2 separate regions of the Homo sapiens genome follow, and region 2 is linked to region 1. The links come from fine-mapping of genetic effects on gene expression. A gene starts in region 1. The other region holds a variant in brackets. All regions are shown on one strand. Distances are between the middles of the regions.

Region 1 (8,353 bases):
GCTGAACCTTTATCCTAGCAGATGTTCAATCAGATATAATGTCAGCCTGAGGCAAAAATTCCAGGAAACAAGTGCTCAGAGGGAAGCAATTCTCTGGAATTTAGTGGATAACAGCAGCCTCTTTTGGAGTTTGAAGAGGAGATGAATTTAGATAATCCCCTTTTGAATATAAATGTATATTTTGTTACGAGTGTAATATGCCAGCAGGCATACTATTCTGCTTGGGAATTTATTACATATTAAATATTCATGATATTGCAGATCAATATTTTTTTAAAAGTTGAAAATGTTCCTGCTACACTTATGCTACACACATATTCAAATTTGTATAAGGTGAAACCAGCTGAAATTGCTTTTTGGTAGGTCAAAAAAGGTTGAATATTCCATTTTATCTGGTTCAACCTAATTACTCAAATTGTGTTACAATTAGCAAAAGAATGCAAAGTTACATTTTATAACACCATTTTTTAACCTGTTTTTCATTCTTATAAAATACTGTTGTATTACATTAAACATCATTTCAAAATATGCTGTATATATTATATATAGAATATTTTGATATATAATTTTATATAATATAAATACATCAGCATATTTTGAAATAATATTGTTTAACATCAGATTATTTAATAAGAATGAGAAATAGTTCAAAATATATTATTGAAAAATAAAAAAAAGTTTGGTTTTTCTTGAAACTTAAAAAAATGGCTTATTTGCCTTCTCTAAATTAAAAAAGCAAATAAAACAAACCTCAATATGCTATGTGTTAGGGAAAAAAAAAACTTTAGCAAAACTAAATTTAAAAGAGTTTGATTAAGCAAAGAACAATTCCAACAGTCTCCAGAGGCAGAGCAGGCTCAGAAACTCCAACACAGCCACGTGGTAGAAGGTTTATGGGCAGAAAAAGGAAAGTGAGGTACAGAAACCCCCGGACTGGTTATAGCTCCACCTTTGCCTTATTTGAACAGGGTTTGAACAGTTGGCCACATGTGATTGGCCAAAGCTCAGTGTTGCCACAAGAGCAGGCTACAGTCTGTTTACAATTCCATTCAGGTTATAGTTCACAATGTACAGAGAAACCTTTAGGCCAAACTTAAAATATGTAAGAAGACAGCTTTAGGCTAACCTTGATTTAACAAAGGAAAGATTTGAATTTCCACATGACTTACTAATGTTAATAAATACAGGAAATCTTCAAATACAGAATACTTTTTTGATATGGTTTTCTTTAAGAAGATATTTTGGTCTTCAAAAATTATTTTTACAATTTATATCTTTGTAAAATATTTAGTCATGAAAATAGAGTTGTATTTATTCCTGCATTTACTTGATTTGATTTTTTACCATGGCTTATTATAATGCCTGTGCCCTGATGAAAAACTATAAGGGCTAATCAAAGTAATGTATGCCTCCATAAAGCACAATTTGGCTGAACATTAATTAACTGAACATAAAAATCTTTTTAAAAGACTCTTAAAGCTAATTCCAATGTAAATTTAAATAACTAGAAAACCATGTGAACCCCAAAACGAATGGAAAAATGTATATAACGTCAATTAAATTAAGCCTGAATAACACTTCAAATACACACTATTGATAGGTTAAATATTTGTGATTAAAAAGACTGGGGATCTTTAACAAAGACTAGTAAGGAGGCAATGGGGAAGGGAAGGCTGGAAATAGGGGAGGATCAGGAGGGACAGGATGACTCAGAGGTAAGTACCTGTCATTATTTCTGGAAGTCTATCTCAATAGTTGCGGCTATACCTGAGATTGAAAAAAAATCTAGTGTAGCTCACCATGGTGTGACTAAGTTGCAAAATAGATTGTCTTGGGTGGTTATTAAACAATTTCAGAAGAGAATACATTAAATTATCTTAATGTTGTGCCGGAATAAGTGTATAGAGCAGACCACAAAATAGGGGAACAAGTGCCAGCCATGAGCCAGCTGATTTGATTTACGCTCCAGGCAATCGCCAGAAATTAGGTTGTTAAGCTGAGGGAACAAGATCGGTATTTAAACTGTCTTTATATGATATCATAGCCACACACCACCAGCCTTACCACCTTTATGGTGCTTTAATATAAAAATTGGATATTTGTTTATAAGTCTAATTCGTTTATGTTCTTTAAAATACACACCACCCTGAACGTTTACAAGAAATATGAATAGCATAAAAACCCTTTGCATAGTTGAAAAGCCGAGATGTATCTTATTTTTATTGGCAGTTAATGTAGAGGCCTATATAACAGCTGCCTCAATAGCCACTAGATTAGGGACATAAAACTGCAAAACCTGTTCCCTGTGCGGGAGGGGAAACAGAAAAATAAGAGAAGCGCCCTCACCCAGGTTTTGGAATTCCAAGAAAGGTGTTGAACGCCTGATGAAGAATTCATTTTGAATATAACTGTCTTCATTTAGGGAGGGTGTGTGAGTGTTCCGTTTGTCTTTGAAATGAAACCTTTCCAAGAGGCACGTGTTGATTTACCAAAGACAGAATGGCAAGGGGGAGCCCAGAGGCAAGAACTGGTGAAATCTCTCAGAAGACGCGGGAAGAAGCCTTTTTTCCCCTGCAATCTCTCCCGCCTCTCTCCAGAGTCCAGGAGGAGGCAGTCCCCGTGGCTTAGGCTTTATCTTTAAGACAATAGCGCCGCTCGCCGCCACCCGCGCGACTCGGATCGGGCATCCCGGCGGCCGCACCCCGCGCGCTGGCTCATCTGCACACCGGCCACCTGCATTGTCGGCCAGAGCCCCCGTCCCGGCGGCTTCCCCAGCAGCTTGGCTGCCCCTCAGGTCCTCCCATCCCACCTTGCACCTCCAGGACGCCCTGGACCCGCCCATCCTCCTGCCCCACTAGCTCATCGACTTACGACTCCCTCAGTCCCTACGGCCCACGGAACCCTCTCCCCAACCCGCGCCACAGCCCGAGCGGCGGCGGCGGCCTTAAGAAGCCCGCAGTCCCGCCCGCGCCGCCCCGCCGGGGCCGGAGGTTGGAGCCGGGAGCACGGCCGCGAATCCCCGCACGTCCCCAGCGCTCCGCGACACCGGGCCCTGCTCGCTGCAACTCGGGGACGGCCTGCGTCTCGCCTCCACCCTGGCCGCGGGCCCCTCGAGCTTGTTTGCTTGTCCTCAGTCCCAGGGCCAGCCCCGCTCCCTCCTCCCGGCTGCTCCAACAGCCGTTTGCTTCCTGCGGTGTGTTTCTTTTTTCCCCTTCCTAGACTCCATCAAAGGTGGCTCTGTTATTGAAATATGAAGCCATTTCCTCTCCAAAACCCTTGGTTACTCAAGGCGGGAATCAATGGACCTATATACTCTCCCAGAAGTTATAAATAAACGTCTATTTGTTCAGGAGGCGTTTTCCCGCGTGTCCCAGCATCTTCCCCACTGGTTATTTCAGGGGTGTGTGTGTCTGTGTGTGTGTGTGTGTGTGTGTGTGTGTGTGTGTGTGCGCGCGCGCGCCCTGTGCCCATCTGGTTCTAATCCTGGTTATGGATCCACAACCCAACCCCACCCATCCCGTCTCCCCCTCGCATTCCTCGTTCTATAAATAAATCCAGGTTCTTTGAGCTCTGTCATCCAAGGATACAATAGCAGTTGTTTGTTAAGAGAAATTTAAACTCAACACCAATACTGAGTCCAGTAAACCAGAAAATATGCTTCTGGTGATTTGGGTGGAAGGCCATCTCCAGTTTAAGAAGCTTTATGTGCCACTATCATCATTGTCTGTTATCCTTGATCTCCTTTGGTGAGGGGAAGGCGGGAAAGAGAGGACCTCTCCGACCCTTGGATTTTTCTTTTAAGCAGAGGCTAATAAAACAAAGCGCAAACTGACTGTCCTGAGGAGTCTGCTCACACCGCTGCCCCGCAGATCATTCCACAGACCCCTTGTCCCATCCCTTCTGGACAGACCCAGGACTGATGAGGGTTCGGGTTCGGGAGGTGTGGTGTGGTGGGGGCTTGTGTGGCTGTAGCGGCCGGCTTTCCTAAACCCCAGAGCGGGATACTCGGGATCTGAGCAGAGGGGAAAGTCATCTAAGAGGCTGCTGCTTTACAAGGTCTGGGCACAGAGCTGCCCCTCCCTTCCTCCCTGAAGTTTGCATGAAGTGCACATTAGGCTGTAATTAGGGGATTTGGGAGGAGAACTTTCCTGGTGACGCTTTGCTTTTCTTCTGCTCTTGGTGAGAAAGTGCCTCCTTCTTCCCAGGATCAGGACCTCTGCCATCCAGCGCCACAAAGAGACATTCTGCACACACACTCACACACGCACACACACACACACTCTCACACTCGCCCAGAGACAAACTTAAGGTGAGGAGAAAGAGCGCTAGCTTCACTTGATCTCCAGCTTCCAACTTAAGCAGAACTTGAGAGCATCCGAACTCCTGGATTTCAGGACAAGGTAAAACTTGCAAATTGTTTCCCCCTCTTTTGGTTATACCTTTGTGCCTTTAAGATTTCAGAGGGCAATACACATGCAATGTATATATACATTAAACAAATTTTATTCTTTTCTTTTGAGTTTAGTTTTCATTTGAATTTAATATGACACCTCAACTTTTAAAAAAGTTTCATATTGTCGGATAAAATATTTCACTACAATAAACAGGCTCAGTCTAAAAATGGAGAAAGAATTAACTCTAGTATCTTAGCTTCTGCTAGTGCTCCTGTAAATCTGGTAGGGTCATGGTTTCCAAGTGGTGACTTTTCTATCTGTATCTCAACAACCATTTTTATAGCACCTGAGATGAAACAAGGATAGTATAGGCTGAAGGGAAAGGTGAGGAATGGGAATGTCCAGCCAGGCTTATGAATTTTGTTTCAGAGAATATATAGGGTTATGTGAAAAAGAAAGTTACTTTAGGCATAGGTAATACCTGTTAGATTAATAATCTTAGAAATGTTGCCATTTTTGGCCCAGGCTTCCTTCTCCAGCTAATTATGAACTTAAGATCATAGAATGATGATGCATTTCATATATACAATGATGTTGATGGATAATTTGAATGCACTGAAGAGAATTTATAGTCATAGTTAAGATTACTGTTAAAAGTTGCTTAAAGAAATTATTTGTATGTTGAGACTGTTCCCCACCAAAAACAAACCTAAACTTGTTTGGGCTTCGATTAAGTAGTTTTCTTCCATTGAATGTGACTGTTGTGTTCAAAATAAGATGGCTTATTAATTTGAGAATAAGTTGCTTTATTTTCATTTATCACTGGAAAAATACACACAGTGGCCAGTACATTTGGGAATTTTTAGGGTGGAAAGTGTTCCTGTACATGTTCCAGTGTGATGTCATAAAATCAAACATACTGGCTGGCTTCTTGGAAGCTAATAGTTCTTAAGAAATTAAGGCTGTGGATTGATTTCTAAATGAATGTAATATTTATTCATTACAATTGTAGTTTCTGGTAACTATTTCTATGTGATTATTTCTGTGTACTAAATTTGCAGAGATTTTATACACATTTCAGTCATTTCAGTATTTTAATGGAATGGGAATATTGTTCTATCAAAAGTATATCATAGTAGTTATCTTTGGAGAATTTTTAATGTGATATGATTCATAATTCTTATATCAGTTAACAAATTCCATTTACCTACAAAAATGAAAGTTTCTCTTCCATTCAGTAAAATATAATGTATACCAAAGGACTCTTCAGATATTAGCTTTAGTCTTTAGTCACTTTTATACCACCCATTTTAAAAAATTTAATTGTTTCAGCTAAGAAATGAATTTATACTTTTGTTGATGACCTCTTCCACTAAATTGGAAACAGCTTAAAAACAGAACTAGATAAGAAGTAATTTTACTTAAGGCTAATTAAATGAACAAGAGATAACCAACAACCTCAACAGACCACTGCTCTACAGGAGGAATGTACCCAGAGGCCAGTATTCTCGACAGGAATGCCTTATGGGCCTGGGCTTTCTATGAGAAACAAGAAGGTGGGGAAACATTATGTACTTATTTATAAAATGAGCCATTTATTTTCAGCAAGGCCCTGTCTCTCAGAGGAATGACTGACACTGTAATTTAGAAGTACTGAAGAGACTTTCACAGAGAAGAATCAATTCATTATATCCCTAGTGGTTTCACTTCCTTTTCCTTCCTTTGGGAGCAAGTAACACATCCAGGATAAATACATTCAGAGTACACAGAAAGATACTTTATGAGTAAACGGTCTACTAAACAATCCTGCCTTTTAGCATCTTAGGTGTGGAATATTGGTATTTTCTGAACAGTTGAAGAAGTCCTTTGAATCTTAAGATAGCAATGCACTTCATCTTTGTAAAGATGAACAAAAGTTATATTCAGAAAATGACTCCCTTCCTTAGAAAATACTAGTTTTCTTTTTCATTTCTTTTTGCCCCATGCACATTTTATTTTTCAGATTGCATTTTTAAGATCATGATCTCTCACCAGTTAAAATTCTGACGAAATACCAGGCAAATTTGAAAATAATTTTGATAGTGCTTCAAATTAATTTTCTGACATCCTGCAGCCATGAGTAGTAACCATAGTACTTAGTCTATGTCATTTAAGTGTACTTAGCCTGTCATTTAAAGGTAGCAAAATGCTGTTGGAAGAAGTAGGAAAGGATGGAAACCTGAATATACTTAGGATTTTAATCAATAGTGTTTAAGGAGGATTAGAGGAAACAGCTGGTTAAACAATTATTAGGAGTAGAGAGGACGAGGTGGTATAAATTAATAATGCATCTCTTTATTTACACTGAATGGGAGGGTCTGTGGTGGTTAACTGTGTGAAGCATGGTCCCTGTGTGCCACCTAGTGGATAAGTCAAAGAAGGCTTTCTCACCGGCTTCTTAAAATACTCTGACTCCCTCGGTTGACGTTTGTTGAACATTAACTACACGCCAGACATTGGGATAGGTGCTCAGGGTAGAAACTAAAGCAAGTGATGTTTATATAAGTTAAAAATTAAGGTACAACTAAACAGTTTATGAAATCCCTACTGGTTGTATTTAAGATCACTTTACTCTTTGTTGGATACTTTACCATTAACTTTCCGCCTCCACAAGGATATAGCTTAATAACTGCAACTCACTTCTAATATAGGATTTGTTTTAGACAGACAGGTCATGGAATTGTTCAAGGACTGGTGGAAAGAGTTTGACCATCTTAAATCACTGTTCCTGAAATAGAAATAAATTTCTCTAAGGTTTAATGTTACTGAATTTAGTTGGGAAAATAACTACTAGCTTAAAAGGTTACCACACAGCTGCACATTTTGTTTCATATTCTTTGATTTTTTTATTAAATTGGAAAGGATAGTAGTACAAGTTGTTTTTGAGTAATGAGGTCTATTTTATAAAATATTGCTCTCAAACACTAATAATTAGCATGTAAAACAACTTCATCTATACTTGTTGTTCACTTGGAGTTTTGAAGCAGGAACCTGGCTTCCATGAAGTTGATCTAATAGAAAAAAAATTCTAGACAAAAACAATTACATGGAAAACCACCACTTGAAGGAAGCATTAAGATACCATAGAAGATTAGTCCATTTGAGTATTGCACTGAGAGCTTTAAAAACCTTTTCTTTAAAAGATATACGAATTATCACTCCAACTGGCTCTTTGCAAGTTATGTGACAATTGCAACAGTGATCAGGACAATCAGCATTAATCAATACAAGTTGTGAAATTCATATAGGAAGGTAAAATGCCTCAGTAGAAAAAAATGATGAATTTGTTACTTGGGGAGCTTTGTAGGTGTAATCCAAAAATAGAGTTAGGCGTGCTGTTGTGGAATGGAAGTTTCCTCTTTGGAAGAGTTTGGTTTTTGTATGGCAGGGAAACCTACACAGTGAAAGAAGGAGACCCGCTCATTAAGTTGTTTTTCATTAATATCACAAAATTATAACCTGTGCTGATTGGAGGTACTGTTTGGAATTAGCATCATCAATTATATAAAATAAAGCAGATTATCTTAATCTTTATTTCCAGTAGATCATTATCTACCAGGAAAAAAACACATTCTGTTAATAATTTCATTGGATCATCCTTGTGATTTAGAATGAATTGCATACTCATTCTAGTGAGAGAGCTAGTGAGAGACTGCCTAAAAGTCAGAGGTCCTTAAAGTAGAAGTTTAATCATAACTTTTCTAGTTTTTGTTTTTTTTTCCTTGAGATGGAGTCTTGCTCTGTCACCCAGGCTGGAGTACAATGGCGTGATCTTGGCTCACTGCAACCACCACTCCCCAGGTTCAAGCGATTCCCCTGCCTCAGCCTCTCGAGTAGCTGGGACTACAAGCATGTGTCACCATGCCCGGCTAATTTTTGTATTTTTAGTAGAGACAGGGTTTCACCATGTTGGCCAGGTT
Region 2 (8,353 bases), 27 kb after region 1:
TCAGTGAGGATGTGGAGAGTGGAGAAATTGGAACCCTCATGCATGGTTGCATGAACATAAAACAGTGCCGTGCTTTGGAATACAGTTTGGCAGTTTCTCAAAGAGCTCAACATATAGTTACCATATTCCATCGCTTGGTAGATAAGGCCCAGAATTCAAAAAATATGTTCATACAAAAACTTGTGCATGGGTGTTAATAGCAGCATTATTCATTAAAGCCCAAAAGTGGAAATAACTCAATTGTCCATCAACTGATGAACAGATAAATAAAATGTGGTATCTATATAGGTGGAATGGAATAGTATTCACACATAAAAAGAATGAAGTACTGATACTTGCTACAGAATGAACATTGAAAACATTACGCTAAGTGAAAGAAGCCAGGCATAAAAGGACCACAAATTATATGATTCAATTTACATCAGTCAATACATCTGTCTCTATGAATTTGCCTATTCTAGATGATTTGTTGAATCATCTAGAATAGACTCATTGAATCATCTAGAATATTCATTGAATATTCATTGAATCATTAAATTCATTGAAGTCATTGAATTCATTGAATCATTTAGAATCATTTAGAATGGCATCCATAGAGACAGAAAGTAGATTAGTGTTTGCCAGGAATCCTGGTGGGGGAGGGAATAGGGAATAACAGCTCATAGGTACACAGTTTCTTTTACGGGTGATGGAAATGTTCTGGAAACAGGTAGTGGTAATGGTTGCACAACTTGAGGAATGTACTAAAAACCACTGCACTGTATGCTTAAAGAGTGCATTTTATGATATACAAATTACATTAGTTTTTTAATGTTTCAAAACTCAGTAACAACTAATAGGCAACAGTTAAAATATGGCAATTCACAAAAGGAGAAATGTAAGTGACTGATGAGCATGGACAAAATTTTTTTATGTCATTTGTAATTAGAGCAAAGAAAATTAATACAAACATAAGCCTACCAAATTTTTGTCTATCAAATGTATATATTTAAAATTATACACAGGCAAGAGTATTTTCTTTATTCAATCTATTGGTAGAAATAAAACTTGAGAACTTTTCTGAAGAGCAGTTTGGCCATATGAATGAAATTCTTTTTAAAATTTTGTATCTGATCTTTTTGTATACCACATTGCAAATACCATACTCTCTTAATTACTATAACTTTATTATAAATCTTAAAGTCAGGTAGCACAACTCTTTGTGCTTTCAACTTTGTTCTTTCTTTTGTAAATTCCTTTTCTAAAACATTTTGGCTATTCCAGGGAATTTACATTTACATATGAATGTTAAAATTACCTTGTACCTTTCTACCAAATGTGGGCTAAAATTTTGATTTGAATGCATTGAATTTATGGGTCAGCTTGGGAAGACTGAATCTCTTAATAATATTGAGCCTGTTTTATGAAAATACCATATCTTGCCATTTATTTATGTCTCATTTAATTTATCTGAACATGTTTTTTAACTTTCAGAGTACAATTTGCATATTTGTTGGCTATTTTTCCCTAAATATTTTTATGCTTTGGTATATGGTATTCTTTAAATTTCAATTTTTGATTATTCATTGCCAGTGTATAAAAATATAATGATGTTTGCACATGGATCATATATCCAGCAACTTTTAAACTTAGTTTATATGTTACAGTAGCTTTTTTGTAGACTTTTTATGATTTTTCTGTGTAGACTGTCATGTTATCTGTAAATAAAAAGTTTTAATTCTTCCTTTCCAATCTGTTTGACTTCTATTTCTTTTTCTTGCCTTAATTCCACTCTCTGGGAACCTCCACTAGGATGTTTAAAGTAAATGGTAAAAACGTAAATGCTTGCCTTTTTTCTGGTTTTAGGAATAAATAATTTAGTCTTTTACCATTAAGTATGATGTTAGCTGTGGGTTGAACATAGATGCCCTTTATCAGATTGAGGAAGTTCCTTTTTATTCCTTTATTAAGAGTTTTTAGTTGGAGTGGATGTTGGATTATGTGAAATACTTTTCCTGTATCTATTGAGATGTTTATATAAATACATATAGATATATATTTATCTATATATAAATATATTTATCTATATAGATATATATCTATAGATATCTATATAGATATATATTTATCTCTATATATATTTATATAAACATCTCAATAGATACAGGAAAATAGATACACTAAATATGTATATATATATAAATCTATTTAGTGATCTATCTGTTTTATCTGTTGAGCAATCGATTGATTGTTGTGTCTGTCTTTCTATCTCTTAATGTAATGAATTATGGCTGGGTGTGGTGGCTCACACCTGTAATCCCAGCACTTTGGGAGGCCGAGGCAGGTAGATCTCCTGAGGTCAGGAGTTCGAGACCAGCCTGGCCAACATGGCGAAACCCCATCTCTACTAAAAATACAAAAATTAGCTGGGCGTGGTGGCATGTGCCTGTAATCCCAGCTACTCGGGAGGCTGAGGCAGGAGAATTGTTTGAACCCAGGAGGCAGAAGTTGCAGTGAGCCGAGATTGCGCCACTGCACCCCAGCCTGGGTGACAAGAGTGAGACTCCATTTCAAAAATATATGTATAATGAATTACATTGATTTTCTAATATAAAGAAAACCTTAAATTTCTGGGATAAACCCCATTTTGTATTAATCCATTTTATATCTTTTTGGATTAGATTTGCTAAAATTTTGTTAAAATTTTTACGTTTATGTTTGTGAAGGGTAATTGATTTGTAATCTACTTTTCTTGAAATGTTTTTGTCTGATTTTGGTATTGAAATAATGCTAGCCTCATAGAATAAATTGGGAAATATTCTCTCCTCTTCAATTTAATCTAAGAGTTTGTGTAAAGTTGATATTATTTCTTCTTTAAATGTTTGGTGAAATTCCGTGAAGTCACCCAGGCCTGGAATTGGTTTTGTTTATTTTTTTGTTCATTTTTGTTGTTATTCATGGGAATTTTTAAACTAAAAATTTGATTTTTAAAAAATAGATATAGGGCATTCAGGCTATTTGTTTCTTGTGTGAGTGGTGGCAATTTTTATCTTTCAAAGAATTTCACCATTTCATTTAACTCACTGAATTTATTAAAACAAAGTTTCATAATATTTTCTTATTGTTTATTTCTATAGAATTGATAGATATTATCTACTTCATTCATTATATTGATAATTCATATCTTTTATATTTTATCAGATTAGCTTGTATAGAGATTTATGAATTATATTGATCT[T/C]TTCAAAGAACCATCTTTTGTTTTTACTTATTTTACTCTGATATTATTATTTTTTTGTTCTGCTTACATTGGGTTTCATATTCTCTTCTTTTTCTAGTTTCTTAATGTGGAATCTGAAGTCATTGATTTGAAACTTTTCTTCTCTAATACGTGTTTAGGGGAATACTTTCTAAACTAAGTATTGCTTCACTGCATCCCAGAGATTTTGATATGCTATGTTTTAATTTTTATTCAGTTTAAAATAATTTTAATAGCCCTTTTGATTTTTTCACTGACCCTTGGGTTATTTAAAATTTTGTGCTTTAGTTTCCAAATAGATAGAAGTATTCCACATATCTTTTTGTTTTTGATTTCTACCTTAATTCTATACTTAGGGAATATATTTTGCCTCACGTAAATCCTTTTACATTTCTTGAGAATTGTCTTATGACCCAGAATATAGTTTATCTTGGTAAGTGGTTGGTATGCATTTGAAAAGAATGTGTACTTGCTCTTGTTGAGTAGAACATTTTATAAATATTAATTAGGTGAGGTTGGTTTACAGTATTCAAGTCTTCTATATATTTTCTGATTTTTCTGCTTACTTGTTCCATCAATTGTTGATAAAGGGATGCTCTAATATTTTACAATTCTATATCATTTTGCTTCAGGTATTTTTGAACCTCTGTTATTAGAAGCATACATTTTTAATGTTGTAATGTTCTCCTGATAATTGGACACTTTATCATTATGAAATTGCTCTCTTTTCCCCTGCTGATATTTTTTATCCTGAAATCTATTTTGTCTGATTTTAATATAGTGTCTCTATCTCCCTTTTGGTTAGTGTTAGCATATTATGTATTTTCCCATCCTTTTACTTGTCATATATTCTTGTCTTTCTTATTTAGATTATCTTAAAAAACATATAGTGGTTCTTTTAAATCCAACCTGACAATCTCTGCCTTTCAATGGAGGTTTATAGATGATTTACCCTTAATTAAAATATTGATATGCTTGGCTCTGAATCCACTATCTTGCTAATTTTTCTATTTGCCTCTTCTGTTCTTCATTCTCTTCCCTCTTCTTTTTCTATCTTCTTTTGAAATAATTTGAATATTTTCCAAAAATTCCATTCTGTCTCCTTTGTCGGTTTATTAGTTATGAGTCTTTGTTTACATTTCTACTGGCTGCTTTAGGTTTTATAGTATATACCTTAACTTTTCACAGTCTATTTTCAGGTGATATTTTACTACAGTAGTCCTGCTCATATCTGCAATTTTATTTTCTTTGGCTTCAGTTACCAGCAGTCAATGACAGTCAGAAAAGAGGTGAGTATAGTAAAACAAAATATTTTGAGAGAGAGAGGCCATACTCATATAACTTTTATGACAGTATATTGTTATAATTGCTCCATTTTATTATTGTTAATTTCTTACTGTGCCTAATTTATAAATTAAATTTTATCATAGGTATGTGTGCAGAGGAAAAAACACAACATATGTAAGATTTGGTACTATCCACAGTTTCAAACATCCACTGGGTGTCTTAGAATGTATCCCTTGAAGATAAGGGGGACTACTATACTTCATGTAAAGTATTAATATAAGAACCTTCCAATGACATATTTCTATTACCCTTAGACATGGTCTTTGTACAAATGTTGTTATGCAGTTGTCATGCATTTTGCTTCTAAATATAAAACCCCACCGTACATTCATATCATTTTTACCTTAAGGTTTCAATTATCTTTGAAAAACATTTACATAATGAGAAAAATGTGCTTACTTATAGTTAGTATAGTCAGTGCTCTTCATTCTTTGCATAAATCCAGTTTACCAACTGTTATCATTTTTCTTCTGCATGAAGAAGTTTCTTAAATATTTATTTCTGTGTAGGCTATTGATGAATTATTTTAGCTTTGTATGTCTAACAAAGTCTTTATTTGCCTTTGTCTATGAGACATATTTTTGCAGAGTAAAGAATTCTAGGTGGACAGTTTTCTTTCAGTACTTTAAAGATCTCATTCCACAGTCTTCTTGCTTGCTTTGTCTCAGACAAGAAATCAGCCTTCATCTTTACCTTTATTCCTCTGTGAATAATGGGTCTTTTTCTTCCTTTCTTTCAGATTTTCTCTTTACCACTGGTTTTAAGCAGTTTCATTATTGAGGGTTTTGGTTTAATTTTCTGCATGTTTCTTGTGCTAGAATATTTGCTGAAATTCTTGGGTCTGTAAGTTTGTAATTTTTATCAAATTTGAAAGTTTTCAGTCATTACTTCTTCAAATTTTTTTCTGCCCCTTCTCTCTTTTGGAGACTCCAATTACGTATGTTTTGGCCACTTAAGTTGTCCCACAGTTTAGTGATGCTCTTTTCCTTTTTAGTTTTCAGTCATTTTTCTTCTCCCTGCTTCATTTTGGACAGTTTTGATTATTGCAACATCTTCAACTTCACTCATCTTTTATCCTGAATTGTTTAACCTGCCATTAATCCCATTCAATTTTTTTTTATCTTAGACAATGTCATTTTCATCTCTAAATGTTTTATATAGGCTGGTTGTAAATGTCTTTTTCATGCCTCTATATGTAACATATTCAATAATTCTTCTAGCTTCTTGAACATTTGAAATATAGATATAATAGCATTTTAATGTTCTTATCTACTGTTTCTATCATCCGTATCTACTATCATTTTTATAATTTCTGGGTCTGCCCATTGACTAAGTTTTCTCTTTATTATTATTATTACTATTATTATTGGTATGCCCTGCTTCTTTGTAAGCCCAGTAGCTTTCTGTTGGATTCCGTATGTTTTAAATTTTACCTTGTTTAATTAAGGCTGGATACTACTTATTCCTACAAATATTACTATACGTTGTTCAGAGATATGGTTAAGGTACTTAGAAACAGTTTGATTCTTTCAGGTCACTCTTTTAAATTTTGTTAGGTGGTCCTAGAGCTGTCTTAAGTTTAGTATTACTTTTCCCTCCACTAGCGAGTAAAGATTCATCTTAAGATTTTAAACCTTCTCCAAGAATTATGAGGCTTTTTAGACTGCCTGTTGGAAACAGGTGCTATTCCAGTGCTGGGTGAAGACTAATCCTTTAGGATCATTTTTTCCTTAGACTTGGATAGATTTCTCACACATATGCACTGGTCAGTCCTTAACTGAATATTCTAGGAGAAAACTCTAAACATCCTAAGTTAACTCTGTGTCACTCTCTCCTTTCCTCTCATTTCTATTATTCTGCCTTGCAACCTCTAGGAACCGTCAATTTTCAGAACTCTTGGCTCTCAACGCCTCAGCTCAAGTTTTTGAACAGGCTCTAGGTAGGTTCCTTCTTCCTGTACTGTATGAAAACTTTCTTTCGGCAATAAATTATATGACTCACCTCATTTGTTTTCTAATAATCAGAAGTTACTGTTCTTTGCCTGATGTCCAATATCTTGAGTGTCTGGTTTTTTCTGTATTTTGTCCATTATCTTTTTAGTTGTTTGAGACAGAAGAGTAAATACTGCTCATCTTACTTCATCTTGATCAGAAACAGAAGTCCTAGGTGGTTTTATTTTCATAGTTTTGCTTTTCTTCATTTTTCTAGTTTCTCTAAAATAACACATGCATTCATATAAAACTAATAAAAATATGCGACTTATTTTAATAAAATACTCAGGATAGTATTAAAGGACTAGATTTGGTAATTGATCATAATAATATGCCTGAATATATAATCACCATATAAATAGTTTTCAATGTCTTTAACAATATTGAAATTATGTCAGATATTTTTTTCCCTAAGGAAGAGAAAATCAGGGGTGCGCAAATTCATAAATTAGCAGATAAAAATGGAAAGGCCTTATCTGAAAAGAAAAATATGTGACTCTTTAAATATATAAAACCCATTTAATAAACCATAGCATGTTACAATGAAATCTGTGAAAATAGAATTAACATATCTCCACATATAAATTACCCCAATCTTACTTATTCTAGATTCCAACATATTTCTCAAAGAATTGTTCATAAAACCTTTTAGTTCCCATTTACAGATGTTTCTCCCGTGACCAAACAGCTAATTCTGTGCCACTTCAAATAACATCTTACACTTTCAACAATCTCAGAAATACATCACACTACTAAAAAACCTGTTTCTACATCTGTAACTTTGGCTTTTATGATCGCCTTGGGTGGCTCATTTTTCCTGGAATTTTCAAAGCCCAGATTATAAAACAATCTTTCTGAAAAAGGTATCAGAAATTAACTATTTTTTGCTTTGGTTGTTTGATGGGGGGAAACAGTCTAGGGTATTTTCAGAATTTAACATTGTCCTTTGCATTATATCCAGCACAAACAGATATGACAGAGGAGTACTGATGCCAGGAATGTGTCCCACGTAGCCTTCCTATTTAAGTAAACTGAAGATTGCCTCCTCAATTAGTTGAAACTTCTGGGTGGTCTTCCAGAAAATAGCTCTTTGAAGAAAGCAGTGCACTAATAATACTGTAAATGTAAAATAACATTAGCTCTTTAGCTTTGAAGCTAAGAAAGAATGAATAGCAATGAGATATTTTGTTTGTTCATATAAAATTTCCTATCTCTGACCCTTCAGAAGGAAAAATTCTATATAAATCCAATGAAAAAATTTTAAGTTTATATATTTGGGTTTAGAATTAGCCATTAATTTGGGGCATGTGTGTGTAAACTATCTGATTTGTTTACTTTTATAGGTGCATGCACACACACACAAACTTCTATAGTAAAATCACTGTATAATAAATTTTAAATAACTGGGGGTATGTAGTAAATAAAAAAATCTCTCCCTTTCTGAGAAAATTGGCCATTATTTAGCCTATTCTGCACATTTGATTTCACTGTCAAGTCTAAAATCACCCCATATGTGCCCTTGATATTATCATTCCACTGCAGCCTGCCCCAGGCAAAATAGTGAAGTTATTGAAGTTGGTTTTGTGGGCACTCTAATTCCCTTCCAGAGACTCCTTTTTCCCTTGTATTCTTCTTGTCTGGGGAGTGAAAAAAAAGTTGTAGTTCAGTTATAAGGCCTTTTATTAATGAAAATGTTCATTTATGTAGCTGCCTATATTTCCAGGGAAACATAGGACAAGCCAGTAATATTAGTAATCTTCATTATGCAAATGTTCATAAC

Direction of the effects. Alleles are on the strand shown, and positions count from the first base shown. SD is a standard deviation of normalised expression in the study named.
For the expression in lung of the gene that starts at base 4,334 in region 1, C is the high allele of the variant in region 2 and T is the other (small effect, 0.28 SD a copy in GTEx).

The links. PIP is the estimated chance that this variant, and not a neighbour inherited with it, causes the effect. A credible set is the group of variants that fine-mapping cannot tell apart.
Region 2: its variant is the best candidate, but not a certain one, in a credible set for the expression of HAPLN1 in lung (GTEx, PIP 0.86).

What each region holds. Positions count from the first base shown.
Region 1 is chr5:83,716,836-83,725,188 of GRCh38, reverse strand. HAPLN1 (hyaluronan and proteoglycan link protein 1) reads left to right here and starts at 4,334. Exons shown (of 5, transcript NM_001884.4): 1 at 4,334-4,400. RefSeq lists a silencer at 2,690-2,749.
Region 2 is chr5:83,689,341-83,697,693 of GRCh38, reverse strand. All of the region lies in intron 1 of HAPLN1 (hyaluronan and proteoglycan link protein 1), which reads left to right. Among named protein-coding and RNA genes, the nearest start is that of HAPLN1, 27 kb to the left of the region's middle. The variant T/C (reference allele first, on the strand shown) is at 3,218.